Linked DNA regions of Homo sapiens. Each later gene encodes a partner of the first gene's protein in a complex. Each region holds a gene or a part of one and is shown on either strand. Other genes may lie near its edges.

Region 1 (7,023 bases):
GGAGGGCAGATCACCTGAGGTCAGCAGTTTGAGACCAGCCCGGCGAATGTGGTGAAACATGTCTCTACTAAGAATACGAAAATTAGCTGGGTGTGGTCACACATGACTGTAGTCCCAGCTGCTCGGGAGGCTGAGGCAGAATTGCTTGAACCTGGGAGGCAGAGGTTGCAGTGAGCGGAGACCATGGCATTGCACTTCCGCCTGGGCAGCAGAGTGAGACTCCGTCTCAAAAAAAAAAAAAAAAAAAAAGACCATTAAACCTGATGCTTCATAAGCAAGGCAAGTTTATATAGGCTGGGAGGGAGGGTGTAGGGAATAAGAGGCATCAGAGGTGACCCATCTGGATGTACTAGGTTTGGGGCAGCCCCTGGCCTCCCTCCGATCCAGCTGGGCAGACTTGGCTCGGGGTTGGCTTAAGGATCCCATTCTTCCAGGTGTGAAGAGGCAGGCTGCGGGGGCTTGCTGCGACCTCACGTCGTGTGGTTTGGAGAAAACCTGGATCCTGCCATTCTGGAGGAGGTTGACAGAGAGCTCGCCCACTGTGATTTATGTCTAGTGGTGGGTCATGCCCTTCCCTAACCCCAGGACAGGACTGGAGTTTGTTATTTTTTCCTTCCCCCTCTCCTCTTTTCCTTCCTCCCTCCCTTGCTTCTTTCCTTCCCGCCTTCTCTCCTCCCTCCATTTCTTCCTTTCCTTCAAATGTATGTTGAGAGGTCTTTGTGGTATCCTATAGAAAAACTGAGAAACAATGAATAAGAATTTGTATTAAAATAGGAAACCATGCATGTCTTGGGCATCTCAAAGCCTCCTCCCCCAGCCCCACCAAAAACAAAGAAAAGAACATGCTATTGGTTTTTTAAATAATACATGCTTATGATTAAATTTAATTGAGAACATGCAAAAATTATCACATTATAAAGAGGAAATTAGAAATCGCCCATAGTTCTGCTATCCAGAAATAGTTACCGTTAGCAGTTTAGTATGTTTTCTTCTAGACCCAGGAGTGAGCAAACAGCAGCCTTTGGGCCACATTGGGCCTGCTACCTGTTTTTGGAAATAAAGTTTTATTGGAACTCAGCCACACTCATTCTTCCACACACTGTCTATGACTACTTTCAAACTACAAGTGGCAGAGTTGAGTACTTGTGACAGAGATTGAATGGCCTGCAAAGCCTGAAAAATTTACTGTATGGTCATTTTCAGAATAAGTTTGCCCACCTCTGGTCTAAACCTTTTCTTATGCAGATGTACACGTATTAATTAAAATTCAAAACTGAGTTCATGACATATGTTCTGTTTTGAAACTACTTTGTTCACGCAGCAGTTCACTTAGCATGTTCCATATCAATATGTCTAAATCAATATCATCTTTCAATTGACTGTATGGTGTTATATATGGATAAGGAATGATATATTTAGCTAATTCTCTACTGTAAGACATTTGGGCTATTTCAAATTTTGATAGTTTAATCAATGATATCGTGAATATCCTTAGATAGAAATCTTAGCATGCTCTTCAAATGATTTCCTTAGGACACATTTCCTAAAAGTGGGATTCATTGGACAGATTGTATGCGTATTTCAAATTTTTCTTGACACGTCTTTAAAAGCAGAGGCACTTTCTTGTGGTGCGTATTCATTCAGCCAGTATTTAAAGAATGCTTCCCAGTGTTGAGTATAGTGCCACTGTTGATGATGGATTGTTAAATGAGAAAAGCCGGTTTACAAAACAGGTCATGCTCTTCCCATCCCTGTAAAGAATGTTTATAAGCAAATATTTATAAGAGAAAACCTAAGAGGACATACATGAAAATGTTAACAGTGGTTATCTTGCGGTAAGATTATGGATGATATGTATGTTTTTTTCTTCGTATTTTCTACCTTAAACAAAAAGATAGAAAATATGTTTTAAAAAGTTATGGATCATTTGTTTAACTTTAAAAAGCAGAAACAAAACCAGAATTAACCCCAAAACATGTTGATTGAGTCACTTCTATGTCACTCTTTGCATAACTCTCCTTTTCATGTCACATATTCTTCTCGATTCTAGTGATTGATCAAAGGACACCTCTTCACTTTCCCTTGTCCCTTGGACACCCTGTTTTATCCCATCCTGTTTGGCTTTTCTCACACCTGCAACCACAGACCTGCCTGAGTTTGTGTAAGGTTTTCTGAAATAATGTTCCTTCTCCTTGTCGTCTGGCTGTTTGTTCATCTCCGTGTACTTGCCTTGTAGGTGGGCACTTCCTCTGTGGTGTACCCAGCAGCCATGTTTGCCCCCCAGGTGGCTGCCAGGGGCGTGCCAGTGGCTGAATTTAACACGGAGACCACCCCAGCTACGAACAGATTCAGGTACTGGGATACCCTGATGGGAGAGGGAGATGTGGGAGGCAGGTACAGACATGGTCATCTAAACATAGTTGACCTACTCCTCTAATTTTTAAAAAAGACATAGGGTTTGTGTTTTTTTGTTTGATCTGCAGTTGCTTTTATGGAAGAACAAAATCATTCACTGTAGACTAAGGTAGGGTAGCTCTGTCATTGTATGCGAAATTTGCCGTGGGACTTTTGTTTGTTCACATTTTGAACGCTCTTCTTGGATTCCTTAGGCTTTGCTTTCCCTTACATTTTTAAGCTAGACTTAGTGATGACCTGTAGTTGTAGGTTACCCAAATGCTCCGCAAGTAAGCCTGGGAGATGCCCTTGCAGAACCTCATCACCTGCCGTTCTTACTGGGAGGCCACCTGGCAGATACCCCTTTGGTCTAATCGCCAAGGTTATTTGTATCTGTGGCCATATTATGACACTGATCCTGCTTCCCAAGTTTGGGTGGGAAGTGTAGATTGTCATAGTATGCATTTTTAGTCTTATTCCTGGGTCTGTTTTATTTCTTCATCCATGTTCTGTCTTTTTTCTCACCCCAACTTTTTTTTGCTTTTACCTCTAATTCTTGTCCATCTAGTTAATTCCTTTTGAATAAGTTAGAATATAAATAAGTAGTAAATTAATATAAATGAATAAAATAGAAAACTTCATTGAACCATCTTGTCATTACTTTAATCAACAGTTTCCAACCTTGGCTGCATATTTTAAAAATACTGATGCCTGGGTGCCACCTCATGAAATTTCGATGTCATTGCTCTGAGTTGCAGCCCAGACATCATCATTTTGATAAGCTTCCTAGGTGATTCCTGTGTGCAGCCAGGATAGGAACCACTCTTCTAAGTCTTTGCTGGGATTTAAAAAAAAAAAAGAAAAAAGAAAGAAAAGGGGCCACAGACACTTCAGTAGGCCCCTCCTCAAGTGAGTGAACTGGCTCTGAGCCTCTTCTTTTCCATGTGTCTTTTTGATCAGCTACAGCCTGTGTTCTTGATCCATAGTTCTTCATCTGTGTGTGAGTAGTAGGAACTAAGAAGATAGCCTTAAAAAAAAATTGCCTCCTATGCAAAACTTATACTCTGAAAACTACAGAACATTATTGAAAGAAATAAGGAAGGCCTAAATGAATGGAAACATATCCAGTGTTCATGGATTGGACAACTTAATATGATTAAGATGGCAATGCTCCCCAAATTGATCTATGGGCTCAATCAACTCAGTCCCTATCAAAATCACAACTGGCTTTTGACAGCAATTAATTGAAAAGATTAATCTAAAATTCATATGAAAATGCAAGGGACCCAAAATAGCCAAAACAAAATGAAAAATGAAGTTGGAGAACTCATACTTCCCAATTTCAAAACTTACTATGTATTAACTAGGCATGATGGCACATGCCTGTAATCCCAGCTACTTGGGAGGCTGAGGCAGGAGAATCGCTTGAACCTGGGAGGGGGAGGTTGCAGTGAGCCGAGATTGTGCCATTGCACTCCAGCCTGGGCAACAAGAGTAAAACTCCGTCTCAAAAAAAAAAAAAAACTTACTACAAAGTTGCAGTAATCAAGACAGTGTGGCACTGGCATAGGATAGATATATAGAATCAGTGGAGTAGAATTGAGAGTCCAGTAAAAAACAAAACAAAACAGAACAATAAAACAAACCTCACATTCATGGTCAACTGATTTTTGAAAAGAGTGGCAAGACAATTTGATGAAATACAGTCTTTTTCAAGAAATAGTGCTGGATACCCACATGCAAAAGAATAAGCTTGGACCCCTCTGTCACACCATTACAAAAAATAACCCAAAATGGATCATAGACCTAAATGTAAGAGCTAAAAGTATAAAATGTCAAAAGAAAATGTAGGAGTAAATCTTTGTAACCTTGGGTTAAAGCTTTCTTAGATATGACACCAAAAGAGCAAGTAACATAAGAAAAATGGATAAATTGGACTTTATCAAAATTTAAAACTTCTGTATTCCAATGGGTACCATCGATTAAGTAAAAAGACAACCCACAGGCCGGGTGCGGTGGCTCACGCCTGTAATCCCAGCACTTTGGGAGGCCGAGGCAGGTGGATCATGAGGTCAGGAGATCGAGACCATCCTGGTTAACACGGTGAAACCCCGTCTCTACTAAAAATACAAAAAATTAGCCGGGCGTGGTGGTGGGCGTCTGTAGTCCCAGCTACTCGGGAGGCTGAGGCTGGAGAATGGCGTGAACCCGGGAGGTGGAGCTTGCAGTGAGCCGAGATCGCGCCACTGCACTCCAGCCTGGGCGACAGAGCCAGACTCCGTCTCAAAAAAAAAAAAAAAAAAAAGACAACCCATAGAATCGGAGAAAATATTTGTAAGTCTAATATTTGATATTTGATAAGGGATTTGTATCCAGGATATATAAAGAACTCTTACAACTATAAATAATAAAAAGACAATCCAATTAAAAACCAGGTCAAAATATTTGAAAAGACATTTCTCCAAATATATACACATGGCCAATAAGCATATTGAAATGATGTTCAGTAGCAAAACCACAGTGAGATACCACTTCACAGCCACAAGCGTGGCTATAATTTTTAAGATAAAGGAAAATCACAAGTGTTGGTGAGGAAATTGGAACCCTCATACATGGCTGATGAGAATGTACAATGGCGCAGTCATTTTAGAAAACAATGTGGCATTTAAATATAGGGTTACTATATGATCTAGCAATTCTACTCCTTGGTATATAGTCCTAGAAATGAAATCATACATCTACACAAAAATCTGTACACAAATGTTCATAGCAACTTGTTAATGGAAAAAGTAGAAACAACCCAAACGTCCATCGACTGAAGGATGAATAAATAAAATTTGGTATGTTTGTACAATGGACTATATTTTAGCCATAAAAAGAACGAGATATCCATACATGCTACTACATGGATGACCCTTGAAAACGTTATGCTAAGTGAAAGAAGCCAGTCATAAAAGACCATATATGGTATGACTTCATTTATACGAAATATCTAGAATAGGCAGATCAATAGAGAGAAGGTAGATGAGTGGTTGTTTTGGCTGGGAGTAGGGAGGAATTGGGAGTGGGTGCTAATGAGAACAAGTTTCTTTGAGGTTGTTAAAAATGCTCTAAAGTTGATTGTGGTGATGGTTGTATAATTCTGTGAATACACTAAAAGCCACTGAATTATATATTTGAAATAGGTGGATTGTATGTGAATCAAATCTCAATAAAGCTGTTAGATAAAAAGTTAAATGATCTTCTAACTTATCTCCTGAAAAATGCACATTGAGCCTCCGTCTGATTTGTGTTGTGGCACCTATGTGGAGCAGCTGGGCCACTTAGCATGACTAAGCGTAGTAATACCGGAGCTAGGCAGCTCAAGCCTCCTGTCTGTTTGAAAGACCATCAGAAAACTCGAAGAGTGGGACAGGATAAACTTTGTGAAGCAGGACCTGAGCTATGTCCCCAGTTTGGTTCTTCTAATGTGGTTTCTTTTCAGTCATTTGATCTCCATCTCATCTCTAATTATTATAAAGAATTAAAACAAGTCATCATTGTAGAAAAGCAAGAAAATGCAGATAGAGAAAAAGAAGAAAATAAAACTGGAGTATTTCCACAACCCAAGTTTAGAGTTGGCCCCCACCTCCCATGCCATGGACTGAGCAGCAGGGGCCCAGCATCCCTTGGATATGGTGGCTGTGTCTTCATGTGAAAGAAACTGAACTTGGTGGTTTTTCCTGCCAGTTCAGGAGAGATTCTTGGCATGTAATATATATCACTGCTCAAGTCAAGCCTCCTAAAACCACAGACCTGTTTCAGCTGCTACTTCAGCCAAAATTCTTCAGCTTCATATTGTCTTGAAAACCTATGATTGTCTCTAACAAACAGGCTACTTGCTAGTTAGAAATTCTTATCAATTTGGCAAGCTACTTATCAACCAGACTGACCACAAGAACTGTCATCTCATCAATGAAGGAGTAACTGATCAATGAAGCCAGCAATGCTTTTTTCTTGGCATCATCAAAGCTGACATTTAGAAGAGATGCTGGTGATAGTCATCTCATCCTACTCAATTTTTCAAAGGCAGAAACCAACCCTGGAGCAATTGAGAGGACTGTTTAAACACAGAGCTTAACAATGGCAGAATTGTATATCTCGTGCTTAACAGATTTTGGTTGAACTTTACCCTAGGTCAGGGGTCAGCAAACTACTGCCTGTGGGCCAAATTTGCCCACCACCTGTATCTGTAAATAAGGTTTCATTGGAACACAGCTGTGGCCATATGTTTGTATATTGTGTGTGGCTGCTTTTGCATTAGGATGACAGAGGTGAATAGTTGCAACAGAGACTGGCTGGTCTGCAAAGCCTAAAATATGTCCTGTGTGGCCCTTTACAGAAAAAGTTTTCTAACCCCTGCTCTAGGTTACGGAGAAAAAAAAAATGGAATAATGTTCTCTGCTACTTTTAACCTGATTTTCTTTGTTACCTAAATAGGCAGCTAGAATGCTGCCTATATTTTAATAAGGATTTGGATCTCACAAGACACCTTAGGCCTTACACAAGTTGTTCAGATTCTTTGCCCCAGTTCTAATCTAGTGACAAAGGCATAGAATTCTCCTCCCACAGGAATGTATTTCTATTTTC
Region 2 (7,465 bases), on another chromosome or scaffold:
TCCAGGGCTCAAGTGATCCTCTCACCTCAGCCTACCAAGTAGCTGGGACTATAGTCACATGCCAAATGTGCTCCACTCTCTTTTAGTTCTTTTTTCTTTTCTTTTTTTCTTTTTTCTTTTTTTTTTTTTTTGAGACAGAGTCTTGCTCTGTTGCCCAGGTTGGAGTGCAGTGGCGGGATCTCAGCTCACTAAAACCTCTGCCTCCCGGGTTCAAGTGATTCTCCTGCTGCAGCCTCCTGAGTAGCTGGGATTGCAAGTGCCTGCCACCACGCCCAGCTAATTTTTGTATTTTTAGTAGAAACAGGTTTTCACCATGTTGGTCAGGCTGGTCTGGAACTACTGACCTCATGATCTGCCCACCTTGGCCTCCCAAAGTGCTGGGATTACAGGCTTGAGCCACCATGCCCGGCTTTTGTTCTTTTTTTTTAGACGGAGTCTCACTCTGTCACTCAGGCTGGAGTGCAGTGGCGCGATCTCGGCTCACTGCAACCTCCGCCTCCTGGGTTCAAGAGATTCTCCTGCCTCAGCCCCCTGAGTAGCTGGGACTACAGGTGCACACCACGAAACCCAGCTAATTTTTGTATTTTTAGTAGAGATGGGATTTCTCCATGTTGGCCAGGCTGGTCTCAAACTCCTGACCTTGTGATCTGCCCGCCTTAGCCTCCCAAAGTGCTGGGATTACAGGCATGAGCCACCGTGCCTGGCCTTGTTCTTGAATTAGAAAAATAAACTCAAGTGCCCAGCCCAATGCCTGGCATATGGTGAATACAATAGGTGGCAATTTTCTTTGGGCTGAAGTATGACTGTATGTACTGTGTATTGGTTTAGCCTGCCCATAGCCAATAACCATCCATTATTAAGCTCTGAACTTTCATGCTGCCCTTGCTCCTGCAAGAAAGAAAGGGGAGTCTCTCTGAGCCTACGCTGGCTGCTGGCTCGGGTGGCTGCCTGATAAAAAAGAATAAAAGTTACATAAAAATTAAAAAAAGGAATAATGCCAACTAACTATTCAGCCTCAGGCAAAGAAGGAAAAAGCAAATAAATCACGTCTATGCAAAGTAGTATGATAAATAACAAAAATTGAGATGCTCAATGAGCATGAGACAGCACTTCCTCATTCATTATCCCACTATAAGGGCCAAGGGAGTTAGTGAGGGAGCTGGGGACAGAGACAGAAACATGATACTATTGATTGAATGCTCACTGACTGAGCTCCTATTTTATATCAGATGCTTTGTTGTGACTTTGGGGACACAGAGACAGATGTCACCCACATCCTACTCTCCAGAAAGTCACTCTAGCAGGCAGAGGAAGAAATGTAAAACTAAAATTGCTTAAAAGATTTTTTTGGCTATACAAGCTATTGTTTGGACACAAAGGAGGGGAATTGTAAATCCTGGGAATGAGTAAAGGTAAGAAACAGCCGGAGAGAAAGTAATGCTGAAAGACATGTTTTCTCCAGGGAAAGAGTTTTCCAGGTTCAAACAAAAGTCTGAAGGCGGCCGGGCTCAGTGGCTCACTCCTGTAATCCCAGCACTTTGGGAGGCTGAGGCAGGTAGATCAACTGAGGTCAGGAGTTTGAGACCAGCCTGGCTGACATACTGAAACCCCGTCTCTACTAAAAATACAAAAAATTAGCCGGGCGTGGTGGTGGGCGCCTGTAATCCCAGCTACTTGGGAGGCTGAGGCAGGAGAATTGCTTGAACGCTGGAGGTGGAGGGTGCAGTGAGCAGAAGTCGTGCCATTGCACTCCTGCCTGGGCAAGAAAAGCGAAATTCCATCTTAAAAAAAAAAGTCTGAAGGCTTGAAACAACTACACTGTGTTCTGGGTGTTATAAGTGTGAAGGATGGAAGAGTTATACTAATAGCAGCTAACATTTCTAATTTATAATAAGAACTAAGTACTGTACTGAACTACATAGATAATCACAATAAAGTATTAATATTATTCCCATTTTACAGTTGAGAAAAGTAAGGTTTAATGAGTTTAAGACTTGCCCAAGTTCACACCTAAAATTACAGTGAGGAGTTTTTGTGTTTGTGTGTGTGTGTTTTTTTTTGAGACAGAGTTTCGCTCTTGTTGCCCAGGCTGGAGTGCAATGGCGCTATCTCAGCTCACTGCAACCTCTGCCTCCCTGATTCAAGCGATTCACCTGCCTCAGCCTCCAGAGTAGCTGGGATTACAGACATGCGCCACCACACGTGGCTAATTTTGTATTTTTAGTAGAGATGGGGTTTCTCCACGTTAGGCTGGTCTCGAACTCCTGACCTCAGGTGATCTGCCCTCCTCAGCCTCCCAAAGTGCTGGGATTACAGACATGAACCACCGCGCCCGGCCCTGACAGTGAGGAGTTTTAACTCAGTAAATTGACTACAGAGCCTCAGCTTTTATTTTATTTTTTATTTTTCTTTTCTTTTTAAATTTTACTTTCTTTCTTTCTTTAGCCCCAGCTTTTAAACCACGAATAACAGTGACATGATCAGACTTCAGAAAGATTTCCTTCAGCTGCAGTGGAAGGGATGGATAAGAGATAGTGTTAATTGAAATGAGTGACTAAACTGACTAAACCATGTCACAGACACTTTTGTGGCTGTTTCTTCCCCAGCTTTTAAACCACGAATAACAGTGACATGATCAGACTTCAGAAAGATTTCCTTCAGCTGCAGTGGAAGGGATGGATAAGAGATAGTGTTAATTGAAATGAGTGACTAAACTGACTAAACCATGTCACAGACACTTTTGTGGCTGTTTCTTCCCAAGAGGTTCTCAGGAGGTTTTTAGTATTTATACATTTTCCTTGAAAAGTGGGGGTGGGAAAGATTGAGGCAAAGACTTTAGCTAATGCTCAGGAAATCTACGTTTTGTTTTTTGAGACGGAGTCTTGCTCTGTTGCCAGGCTGGAGTGCAGTGGTGCTCTCGGCTCACTGCAACCTCTGCCTCCGGGTTCAAGCGATTCCCCTGCCTCAGCCTCCCAAGTAGCTAGGACTACAGGCGCGCCACCACACTCGGCTAAGTTTTTGTATTTTAGCAGAGACAGGGTTTCACCATGTTGGCCAGGATGGTCTCGATCTCCTGACCTTATGATCCGCCCTCCTAGGTGGCCTAAATCTACATTTTTACATAAGATAAGGTGAATGTTTGAAGAAAAAGGGAATGGAGGAAGAAAACAATTATGTGGTGGACTCAGGGTAATCTAGTAGTAAGGTACTACTAGAAAGGTAGAAAGTAGTCTAGTAGAAAGGTAATCTAGTAGTGAACATTTATGGAATTTGTGGAATAGAGGCCAGGTGCGGTGGCTCGCGCTTACATTCCTAGCACTTTGGGAGGCCAAGGCGGGCGGATCACCTGAGGTCAGGCGTTGGAGACCAGCCTAGCCAACATGATGAAACCTCGTCTCTACTAAAAATACAAAAAATTAGCTGGGCGTGGTGGTGCGTGCTTGTAGTCCCAGACACTCCGGAGGTGAGGCGGGAGAATCGCTTGAGCCCGGGAGGTGGAGGTTGCAGTAAGCCAACACCGTGCCACTGCACTACAGCCTGGGCGACAGGGTGAGTGAGACTCCGTCTCAAAAAAATGTGGAATAGAACAAACTTTAGTTTTAGGAACTAGACTTTATATTGTAGATCTAGTTGCAATTGACACGTCCTTGTTTTATGGGAGGCTACATACTTTAAAGGTTTCCAGGGGAGCAAATAATTAATTATGATTTTGTGTATGTGTGTTTGTGGGGGGTAGTCATCAGGAAATGTCTGAGGCCTTTTGCCTTACCGTGTGGGTCTGGCTAATGTGTAATGTTTTGACTCAAGATTGTAAAGTCAAATTATTCATCCGGGGAGAGGATGGTCGTGTAACTGAATCAGCCTCCCAAGATGAACTTTCCCTCTGGCGTAAGTTTAGGAGTCCTGATATTTTATTTTCCTTTACAACAGAAAGCAGCAACCCTGTAATTAAAGAGAACAATGAAGGAAGCTATCTAAGCCATGAGGGTTACTGAGGATCTGCGCTGGGGTTAAGGCTGCGAACTTAAGAAATATTTGGATAGACAGTTCTCATGGCTTGGTGTGGTTAGACGTGGTCCTCCGTGGGCAGCAGCTAAGACGCTTACTCCAGTTTGGGCATTGAGGGCACAGTGCGTAGTGGTCCTGGAAGTAAAGAGAATCCTGGTTTTCCGCAGAGATCTAGGATTAACCTAAGCGTTCGGGTTCGGGAGCGGCCACAAGGGCGCCTCACTCCAACCTCAGCCATCCGCAACAGGGTGGGGTATTAGTATTTTTCCGCACCCGCCCCAACGAGGGAAAGCGCCGAGTCATTCCGGCGGGGCGCGCCGGGCGGGGCTCGGGCCACATCCCCCTCCTCTCTCTCCTCCTCCGGCACCCCCGTCCGTTCCGACTCTCGCGAGATCCCTACTGGCTATAAAGGCAGCGCCCCGGAGAGCTCTTGCGCGTCTTGTTCTTGCCTGGTGTCGGTGGTTAGTTTCTGCGACTTGTGTTGGGACTGGTGAGTGTGGGCAGTGCGGCCCCTGCGGAGTGAGGCGCGGCGCGCCCTTCTTGCCTGTTGCCTCTTCCTCCTCCTGTCCGGGGCCCGCCCGCGCTCGGGTGGGGGTGCTGTGATGCGTGAGGCAGCCGGGGGAGGCCCGGAGTCCGAGACTGCTTGAGCGCTGCGCACACCCCTCTCGTGGGCCCCCCACGTAGGTGCGGGAACCTGGTTGAACCCCAAGGCAAGCGTGGACTCGAGTCGAGTCTTCCCCCGGCAACTCGAGCACGTGGCGCGGCGTCTGGGCGGGCTGGTGGTGGGGGTCTCCGAGACTAGCCTCCTGCCGGACGGGGTGGGTTCGGGAAGCTTCTGGAATGGACCTGTATCCAGACTCGTGGCTGTAGAAGACAGCCTCTATGTATTTGGCTGTTCCGGGTCCTGAGCCTTGACTAGCTGCGGAGCTTCGGGTACCCTTTCCCCGTCTTTATTTTCCTGTACGTGGAATGGAGTTAGCGATGAGCCCAAATGTCCCCGCTGAAGCACTCTCTCTGCTGGTGCTTTCTCCAGTGCTGGGGAGGGACAGGGGGCACCTGAAGTGGGGTTTAGGGATGTGGCCCTCTACGCTGGGCAGATCCCCTGAAGGGGCCCGGTGGCGGCCTGAATCCCAGCAGCCTTTACCCCGAATTGGTTGGGTTTTGTACTTGGGGGCCACTTGGGAAAGAAGGATTGGACGAGAAGGCCATTTGGGGGCACCAAGTTGCAGCATGCCTTAGTTTTTGGTTTTTGTTTTTTGTCGTTAAAGGTGTTAAGGACTTTTTAAAAAACAGTTAAAAGTTTGCTAAGATCCATGCTTACAAAATTTCTTTTGCTTGTGGTATTGTGAACTAAGAACTTTGGGACTTGGAAAAGCTTTCAGACCGCGGCTTAGTGGGTTAAATCTCTGTTTTTTGAGCTAGAGTCTCGCTCTGTCGGCCAGGCTGGAGTGCAGTGGCGCGGTCTCGGCTTACTGCAACCCCTGTCTCCCGAATTCAAGCAATTCTTCTGCCTCAGCCTTAGGAGTAGCTGGGATTACAGGCTTGTGCCACCAAGCCCCGGCTAATTTTTGTATTTTTTTTTTTTTTTTTTTTTTGAGACGGAGTCTCGCTCTGTCGCCCAGGCTGGAGTGCAGTGGCTGGATCTCGGCTCACTGCAGCCTCCGCCTCCCGGGTTCACGCCATTCTCCTGCCTCAGCCTCCCGAGTAGCTGGGACTGCAGGCGCGTGCCACCACCCCCGGCTAATTTTTTGTATTTTTGTTAGAGACGGGGTTTCACTATGATGGCCAGGCTGGTCTCGAACTTCTGACCTCAGGTGATCTGCCTGCCTCGGCCTCCCAAAGTGCTGGGATTACAGGCTTGAGCCACAGCGCTTGGCCAAGATCTCAATACTAATCTTGGTGTTGATCTGGGTGAATCCAGTGCAACCTTCCTTTTCAGCAGTAAATTGATTCTTATACTTGTTTTCGCCCTGGGATATTAGCCCCAAAGTCAGGAACCCACCTTCACAAATGGTGAAGGGAATTCTAGGGCTTACACAATACCTAAAGATTTGAAATTAAGCAGATGCCAATCAATATCTTGGTCTTGCCTCTTTTTTTTTTTTTTTTTTTTGGAGACAGAGTCTCACTCTGTTGCCCAGGCTGGAGTGCAGTGGCGCGATCTCAGCTTACTGCAACCTCTGCCTCCCGGGTTCAAGTGATTCTCCTGCTTCAGCCTCCTGAGTAGTTGCGATTACAGGCATGCACCACCACGCCCGACTAATTTTTGTGTTTCTAGTAGAGACGGGGTTTCACCATGTTGGCCAGACTGGTCTCGAACTCCTGACCCGGTGATCCGCCCGCCTGAGCCTCTCAAAGTGCTGGGATTACAGGTGTGAGACACTGCGCCCAGTGGTCTTGCCTCTTAAAAGTTGGACTGACTGGAAGGGCGCGGTGGCTCACGCCTGTAATCCCAGCATTTTGGGAGACTGAGTTGGGCAATCATCTGAGGTGAGGAGTTTGAGACTAGCCTGACCAACATGGAGAAATCCCGTCTCTAATAGAAGTACAAAAAAATTAGCCGGGTGTGGTGGCCTGCGCCTGTAATCCCAGCTACTATGGAGGCTGAGGCAGGAGAATCCCTTGAACCTGAGAGGTGGAGGTTGCAGTGAGCCGAGATAATGCCATTGCATTCCAGCCTGGGCCCCAAGAGCGAAACTCCGTCAAAAAAACAAAACAAAACAAAAACAAATAAAACAAGTTGAATTAGTTATAGGTTGTGTGCTGTCTTGGACAAAGCTACCTGGAGAAAAGTCAAATATGCTTCTGATGTTATGAAGGCAGGTGGAGGCACAGTGATGGGAAAGGTCAACGTGACTTTTGGGGAGCCAAACAAAAGTGTTTGTGGCATTGTGCATTTGGATTCTGGTTTGAGAGTCTTCATCTGCCTCTCTCTCTGCTTCTGTATAATGAATAAGATGCCACTGCACTAATTATGGTTCAGAAAGAATGAGAGGTTATCTCAGTATATAAAGAAATTGCCTTGCTGTTTTTAAATGAAAACAAAGGCTGAGATTCAGAGACTTGTTTCGTTCCAAAAGTTGGAAAGCTCAGACTGTGACCCTTGACTGCTGGCTGGAGCTTCTTACTAAAACAACATTTAATGTATTCAGGGACACTGGACAATGCCTTGATTGTTTACAGCTAAGTCTCTTTAAGTAGGTGAAGGCTGCTGGTTATGTAGAAAATTAAGGCTTGTTTCTAATTCATTTCTGTTATTTCTAGCTGATAGGAAGATGTCTTCAGGAAATGCTAAAATTGGGCACCCTGCCCCCAACTTCAAAGCCACAGCTGTTATGCCAGATGGTCAGTTTAAAGATATCAGCCTGTCTGACTACAAAGGTGAGAGAATTAACACTGGGCTCATTGAGATGGAGTTATTTTATATTCTAGGGGTGGCTTGTTAGATTTGTGTCAA

What was found. Proteins that work in one complex are often made in the same cells at the same time.
Region 2: the proteins of SIRT5 (region 1) and PRDX1 are in contact, whole or in part, in a crystal structure (PDB 8Z54), measured with the Homo sapiens proteins. Residues at the interface, in NP_001363727.1 of Homo sapiens: Ala86, Tyr102, Arg105, Gln140, Ile142, His158, Val220, Val221, Trp222, Phe223, Gly224, Glu225, Asn226, Leu227, Leu232, Val253, Val254, Tyr255, Pro256; in NP_001189360.1 of Homo sapiens: Phe195, Ser196, Lys197, Gln198.

Annotation. Positions count from the first base shown.
Region 1 is NC_000006.12:13,598,598-13,605,620, forward strand, and holds part of SIRT5 (NAD-dependent protein deacylase sirtuin-5, mitochondrial), read left to right. Parts: intron 1-432; exon of another isoform or gene 433-434; coding exon 435-558; exon of another isoform or gene 559-1,044; intron 1,045-2,236; coding exon 2,237-2,352; intron 2,353-2,483; coding exon of another isoform or gene 2,484-2,523; exon of another isoform or gene 2,524-3,040; intron 3,041-5,878; coding exon of another isoform or gene 5,879-5,921; exon of another isoform or gene 5,922-7,023. UniProt on the Homo sapiens protein: NAD-dependent lysine demalonylase, desuccinylase and deglutarylase that specifically removes malonyl, succinyl and glutaryl groups on target proteins.
Region 2 is NC_000001.11:45,518,862-45,526,326, reverse strand, and holds the start of PRDX1 (peroxiredoxin-1), read left to right. Parts: upstream 1-4,442; 5' UTR 4,443-4,498; exon of another isoform or gene 4,499-4,718; intron 4,719-7,272; 5' UTR 7,273-7,283; coding exon 7,284-7,389; intron 7,390-7,465. UniProt on the Homo sapiens protein: Thiol-specific peroxidase that catalyzes the reduction of hydrogen peroxide and organic hydroperoxides to water and alcohols, respectively.